Linked DNA regions of Homo sapiens. The protein of the gene in region 1 interacts with the protein of each later gene in a pairwise test. Each region holds a gene or a part of one and is shown in the gene's direction. Other genes may lie near its edges.

Region 1 (3,752 bases):
GTTGAAGGAATGTTTTCCTAGTTTTGTAAGAGAAGACTTAGCCCTTAAGAAAAGAATTAATAAGAATAATTACTATTTGGCTGGGCGCGGTGGCTCACACCTGTAATCCCAGCACTTTGGGAGGCAGAGGCAGGCAGATCACAGGGTCAGGAGATCGAGACCATCCTGGCTAATAGGGTGAAACCCCGTCTCTACTAAAAATACAAAAAATTAGCCAGGCCTGGTGGCGGGCGCCTGTAGTCCCAGCTACTCAGGAGGCTGAGGCAGGAGAATGGCGTGAACCCGGGAGGTGGAGCTTGCAGTGAGCCGAGATGGTGCCAATGCACTCCAGCCTGGGCGAGAATGCAAGACTCCGACTCAAAAAAAAAAAAAAAAAAAAAGAATAATTACTATTTGTTAACACCAGTAAAGAGGACAGCATTGATTTTGGAGGGTAATTAATAAGTTGATCAGTAATACCCTTGGCACATGGAAGAATAATTGCACTGTTGATATTAAGAAGTCACTCATAGGAAATGTCATTTTTATCAGCATTTTTTTAATTGAAATGATTAGTCTTTACATGGGAGGAAGCAGCCTCTTACCTGCATAAGGATTTTTGAAATGCTCTCAGTAATTCAAAACCATGTCCAGATGTTTAAATTACTACATGTAATAGCCTTATACCTATTGCAGTTTTCTTTAACATGGTTCAGCACTTTCTCAAAGGAAATTTCAATTATTTTTCCTCAAACGATAGAAAACAAAATGAACAGGAGCAGGCTGAACTCGATGGAACCAGTGGTCTGGCTGAGTTGGACCCAGAACCAACGAATCCTTTCCAGCCAATAGCATCTGTAATCATTGAGGTATGAATGATGGCAAATGTAATTTTTGTATCTTAAGTTATAAGTTGGAACTTGGAAAAGAAGGTGGAAAGTTGGGAAAGGAGGCAGGGAAACAGATGTGTTTCTTCTGAGAGATTATTTCTATAAGAAATTAAACATGAGAGACTGATTAAAGGTTTACTGCTTTTTCTTACTCTTAAATTACCTTTGAATCTAGTGTGAAAGGGGGAATATGACTTCAGAATTAAATGACAATAAATAAATTTGACTGTAGCAATTATTATAGTTGCTGTGTTGACAAATCTATTCTGTCATTTATTTCATATAGTAATAACATATTTACTCTTATTTACATTTTCTGTGTTTCTGTATTGCTGTTACTGTCCATCTGCAATATTTACTTAGAATGCATTAGGGTACATAAACAATTTTCTATTTTTCCAGGATACTTAAGGATGTTTGAAACTGCAATAAATTCTCCTATATCTGAATATCATTTATTTCCATTTTAAATCAGAAATTTTACCAACATTAATTTGTAGATTTTAATTATGAAGACGTTAAGGGGTTGTGTGTGTGCGCGTCTGTGTTTTTGTTTTCATTTTCTGCTCATGTCCAGAGTTTGCATTGGCTCTGCTTTTATGGCTGGCAGCAGCGATGCCTCTTCTGAGGCATTGCTTCCTAAACCTTAGGCTGACTTCCTGGTCCTACCTGGAAGGTTTTTTTTTTTTTTTGTCTCCATTCTATCAGATATTATATTTGTCAAGTTTTGTTTTATGTTCTTTTAAAAATATTGAGAGAGAAGAGGTCAAGTTGTACTTTTTACTTTGAAACAACAATTATTCTCTGTGTATAATAAGGCTTGCTTTATAAATAATGGCTAATTATTTTATAGTACCATGGGTATAAATTGTGTAGAAGGCTCTAGTGCTTCTCCCAGCACCGTATTTCCCACAATGTATAGAAGTGAATAATAGTGGTGTACGACATAGTATATATCACATATAGAAAGTTCCCAAATTAATAAGTGGCATGGGGAAAGTACACTTAACGCTTTGAAACTACAATTTCAAGAAGATGGCCAGTAAAGAAATAAAAGCAAATTAGCTATAGTTTTTTTTTTTTAACCATACAGATTTTCTCTTTTTTTCCCCACAAAACTTTTTTAGCATGTTTCTTGGTACAGAAGCACCTAACATTTTTTTTTATTATTACTGCAGATAATTAAAATGGTGAGATATTGGAAGGTATTGGTTCCAGAAGAGACAGACAGATCAATGGAACGAATATTAATAAACCTATTTATGTATGAGCATTTTAGTACAAGATAAAGATAACATTTCAAATCTGAGAGAAAAAAATAATAGAACAACTTAATAACCATTTAGAAAAAGGAAAATTATTGAATATTGTATACCCAGTTAAATTCCAAAAGTATCAAAAACTTAAATACGTTTTAAAAAGTGAAAGTCTTCAAGTTACTAGTAGATAATATAGATAAGTCTTTATATGTGCTTGGAGGAGGAAAAAATTTCAAAGCAGGACAAGCAAGCCACAAATCATAAAGGAAAAAGGTGGATAGATCTTATACTACCCAATTTTTAAAGAGCTATTCTACAAAGTTAAAAAGCAAAAATGAAAAGAAGTAAACTCTAGTGAGAAATAGAACACATAGTCTTATGTGACTCTGTGACTAGTCCTAGTGACACGTATGCACAAAAGAACTCTTACAAATTACTATGAAAATAATGAGAATCTAATAGAAAAGTGGGCATTGGGTTACCAAAGGCAGTTTCCTAAAAAAAAATTAAAAATGTCAATAAGTGGCCAGGCACGGTGGCTCACGCCTGTAATCCCAGCACTTTGGGAGGCCGAGGTGGTTGGAGTTCAAGACCAGCCTGGCCAAGACGGTGAAACCCTGTCTCTGCTAAAAATACAAAAAATTAGCCAGGCGTGGCACGAACCTATAATCCCAGCTACTCCGGAGGCTGAGGCAGAGAATTGCTTAAACCTGGAGGGGTGGAGGTTGCAGTGAGCCGAGATCGTGCCACTGCACTCCAGCCTGGGCGACAGAGCGAGACTCCATCTCAAAAAAAATAAAATAAAATAATTCAATAATAGTTCATTTTTGCTGGCAATAAAAATTTTAACTTAAACTCAAATGAAAATAACACTAAGTTAAATAAAAATATGTATTAATACGGCAGAGATGTAAAAGGTCAATCATGATATGTGGTATTGAATATGATGTAGAAAAAAATCACTCTCCCAACCCTTTGCCTGAGGTTCATTGATTCATTTTTTCTGAAGGGAAGTTTGTGACTATATGTGACATTTTTAAATTTGCCTACCCACTGACTCAACAGTTCTACTGTTAGCAATTTAATCTAAAAAAATTAAAAAAAAGCTATTAGGATGATTCTGTTTTTTAAAATAGTGAAAAATTGGAAATACTTTGTTCATTGATACAGAATTGGTATGCTATAAACATTCAAAATAATAATTGATGAAAATAATTGTATCTAACATTTATGTAGCATTTACTATGTGTAAGGCACTGTTCTGAGCACTTTATATATTCATTGGCATGGAAAGAAATGTATATTCTTCAATAAAAACTTCAATTCTTTTTTGTTTAAACAACAAATACATAAGTATATATAGATACATATATTTATGTATGTTTCTGGGTGATGTATGTCTGTACATGATATAGGTATGTATGTGTGGGGGTTGGCAGAGAAAATCATCTCTTAGTGATTATATACTGAACAGATTATATACGGAATAATACAGATGAATAGTAGTCATCTCTAGATTGTGGAATTACTGGTAATATTTGTTTGCTTTTGTTATACTTTCTGTTTTACTGAATGTTTGACATTTAGCATCTTTTAATGATGTATTCATGAAATCATTTTTAAA
Region 2 (3,752 bases), on another chromosome or scaffold:
GCTCCTCAGGCACTGCAGGCATAGAAGCTCCTTTCTTTCCCAGTGCTTCTCTTATAGCGATTACAATGTTTTAAAAATGTGTCTTCCAGACAAATACAGTACAATCCAACATGTTTGAGGTTCTACAGTTAACAGATTGTATAATTAATAATCTGGGTGGGAATGTTAATCAGGAATGAAATACAATTTAAAAATTAACAAAGTAATGAGTCAGAGGCTATATTGATAGAAGCACTTTTTAAGGAATAGCATTCCCTGGCCCAAGGGCTTAGTTGATTGAAAATTTTATCTATTATTGCTAAATTTTAAATCAAAATATGGCCGGGCACGGTGGCTCACACCTGTAATCCCAGCACTTTGGGAGGCTGAGGCGGGCAGATCACGAGGTCAGGAGATCTAGACCATCCTAGCTAACAAGATGAAACTCCTCCTCTACTAAAAATACAAAAAATTAGCCGGGCATGGTGGCACGTGCCTGTAGTCCCAGCTACTTGGGAGGCTGAGGCAGGAGAATCGCTTGAACCCGGGAGGTGGAGCTTGCAGTGAGCCGAGATCGCGCCACTGCACTCCAGCCTGGGCAACAAGAGCGAGACTCTGTCTCAAAAATAAAATAAATAAATAAATAAATAAATAATCAAAATAGACCCCATTACCAAATTTTCATGTTTTCAAGGATTCTCTAAAACCTACAATATTATCAATTACATATTCACAAATAATTACTGAATACAATATGGTATGTGGTAAAGTACAAAGGAGTACTGTGGCCATTTGTGATAAATAGAAATCAAATTGGAAATCTTCATAGATAACGTATTTTTTCTTTTTTTTTTGGAGACGCAGTCTCACTCTGTCGCCCAGGCTGGAGTGCAGTGTCGCGATCTCGGCTCACTGCAAGCTCCGCCTCCCGGGTTCACGCCATTCTCCTGCCTCAGCCTCCCGAGTAGCTGGGACTACAGGCGGCCGCCACCATGCCCGGCTAATTTTTTGTATTTTTAGTAGAGACGGGGTTTCACCATGTTAGCCAGGATGGCCTCGATCTCCTGACCGCGTGATCCGCCCGCCTCGGCCTCCGAAACTGCTGAAATTACAGGCGTGAGCCACCGCGCCCGGCCAGATAAGGTATATTTTTATTCCTTTTATTTTTACTCAACTCCTATGGTGCCACAAAATCCTATATTAAGCAGTATAATTGAAAAGAAAAAGAAAACAATAGCACAATGATTATAAAGAAAATAGCCTGAGTTAACTTCATTTGTGTCACTCCTAAAGCAGTGGATCAGATGTCAATGTTTATTATCATTCACTAATTACATTTATGAATAATTTTTAAAAGTAAAGGAAAAGACTGGCTGTTTTAACTAACATAATAGAAACTGTTGCTGGATTTTCTGTTGAAGGTATATTTTGAAGTGAGTTTTATTAAGTATAACTCGCATGTAAAATTCAAAAGAAAAATTAAATACATAAATAAAATGTGTCTTCCTCCACTAAAAGAGTAGGACACATCGCAGAAGCCGATAAATATTTGTTCAATGTTTACATGAACAAACACGGTCACTCAGCCGTCTTTATTTTCAGTGAGTCATAGGTAAAATATTCTTCACCAGGCGAGGATTGAGTCGCAGTCGCGTCAGGAACTCGCCTCCAGGTACTGAGCGAGCGAGCCCCGACGGCCGCGGTGGGTGGAGGGGGGAAAGTGGGGGAGAGTGGGGCGGGAGTAGAGGGAGAGCGAGGGAGGGAGCCTCACCCCCGGGACGCTTTCTGCGCACGCGCATCTCGGTGCATCTGTTGGGCGGGACCGCGGGGCCTGTGACACCGCACGCTGAGCTCTGTGATGTAGCCGCTTGCGGAGACTGCAAGCAGCCGCGGCGCGCCCGGCCCTCCCTCTTCCGCTGCCGCCGTGGGAATGGAAACATCTGCCCCACGTGCCGGAAGCCAAGTGGTGGCGACAACTGCGCGCCACTCCGCGGCCTACCGCGCAGATCCTCTACGTGTGTCCTCGCGAGACAAGCTCACCGAAATGGCCGCGTCCAGTCAAGGTAAGGGCGGGCGCGCGCGCGGCCGGCGCCGCGGGGAGCCGCCTTCCTGGGCTCCGGAAGGGGAAGGGCTCCGCGCCCGCCAGTCGCGACCGAGCTCCCCGGGGAGTCCAAGCGGCGCGGGGACGGGGAGGGCGCTCGGGGATCGCCCCTGGCTCAGCCGCTCCCAGGGTCCGGCCAAGGTCACGCGCGTGTCTGGGGCCTAACCACCCTGGGGTGTCGTCTCCAGTGGAGCTCACCCAGCCTTCCGGCGCCGCCCCCGGCGCAGAAGCCCGAAGACATTCTGTCCCCGTTCTCGGAAGCGGTCTGGCTTCTTTGTCCCTTTGGACGTTCATCTCAAATGCCTCGTGGCGTCATTCTGTGTACAAGGCACCTCCCCAACTGCTTTATTGTTGGTTTTGAAAAACTAGCACATATGGGATGGTACTTAGGAATAGCCTTCTGTTTAGTCGGCATAGTCAAAGATTCCGTGTAATTCGCAGTGGAGCACGTCTTTAAGTTATGCGTCTTACCCTATTTTGAATGTTTAGGTTGTATTTAATTTAGTACTGACTCACGGGATCCCATTGCTAAACAGAGCCATCATTGAAAACTCAATCATATAAACGTAAAATTACGTAAATTATGTTAAAAACAAAGGCAGTGAAAATACTAAAAACTCATCACTTTTATTATTTACCATGTTTTATTGTTACTTTACTTTTGAGGTTATTTATACATCTATTGTATCTTTGTGGAGGAGATACTATACTATGGTGCTCTACTGTGCGTCTCTTCCCATCTCTGGGTTCAGTAGTTTCACAATTCAGTAATGTCATGCTCACGATGAATGAATACGCAATGGAAATTGGCTACACTACAAATCAGCCCTTGCCTAAAGCCGACTGTTAAGCATTTCACCAGCACGCCGCTAAATTTTAGATGACTCTGGGAAGGTGGAATGTGCAATGTGATAATTATGTATTTTCCTGCAGAGCAGACTGCTCTTATAGACTTTTATAAGAGCAGACTGCTCTTATAGACTTTTATAAGAGCAGACTGCTCTTATAGGTTGATCAGGTATTTGCACCTAGGAAATTGTTGTGAGAAATTTTGAGGTTAAGATGAGTTTCAATTGTTATCACAGTGATGATCACATAATAACTGTGATCATTGATTTTGTGGGCTCATAAACGAAGCTATTGGCTGACTTTTGTCTGTCATAGTGCTTAGCAGTGTTTGACCAATGACTGACCAAATATCTCGCATTTAATCTACCTTCCCCCCTACTCCCTTTTTTAGGGACTAGATCTGTCATTCAGGCTACAGCACAGTGGCACAATCATAGCTCACTGCAGCCCCAGTGGAGCCACCTGTTGATCTAAGGGGCTTGGTCAAATTACGTTAAAACTGTAATGTTTTGTTGTTACATTAGAAAAATAAATTATTTAACTACTTGAGAGGCCATGGAGTACCCAGGTACTCAGACATCCATATTTTGTTCTGCTAAATGGGCGTCTGTGATGTATCCTGAATGAATTCTTGAATTATATTTTGTGTATGGTTTAAGGTAGAGGTTGAGAGTAGTTTTTTTTGAAACACAAATATATAGTAGTTCTAACATCATTTGTTGTTTCCTTCATTGAGTTACCTTGGTGCTAAGTTATTAAAAATCAAATGACTATATGTGTGGATCTATTTCTGGATTCTGGATTCTCTTCCATTGCTATATTT

The links.
Region 2: the proteins of ARL13B (region 1) and FUNDC2 interact in binary tests that used the Homo sapiens proteins (3 or more experiments, as listed by UniProt).

What each region holds. Positions count from the first base shown.
Region 1 is NC_000003.12:94,039,141-94,042,892, forward strand, and holds part of ARL13B (ADP-ribosylation factor-like protein 13B), read left to right. Parts: intron 1-739; coding exon 740-848; intron 849-3,752. UniProt on the Homo sapiens protein: Cilium-specific protein required to control the microtubule-based, ciliary axoneme structure. May act by maintaining the association between IFT subcomplexes A and B. Binds GTP but is not able to hydrolyze fit; the GTPase activity remains unclear.
Region 2 is NC_000023.11:155,025,030-155,028,781, forward strand, and holds the start of FUNDC2 (FUN14 domain-containing protein 2), read left to right. Parts: upstream 1-1,814; 5' UTR 1,815-1,909; coding exon 1,910-2,042; intron 2,043-3,752. UniProt on the Homo sapiens protein: Binds directly and specifically 1,2-Diacyl-sn-glycero-3-phospho-(1'-myo-inositol-3',4',5'-bisphosphate) (PIP3) leading to the recruitment of PIP3 to mitochondria and may play a role in the regulation of the platelet activation via AKT/GSK3B/cGMP signaling pathways.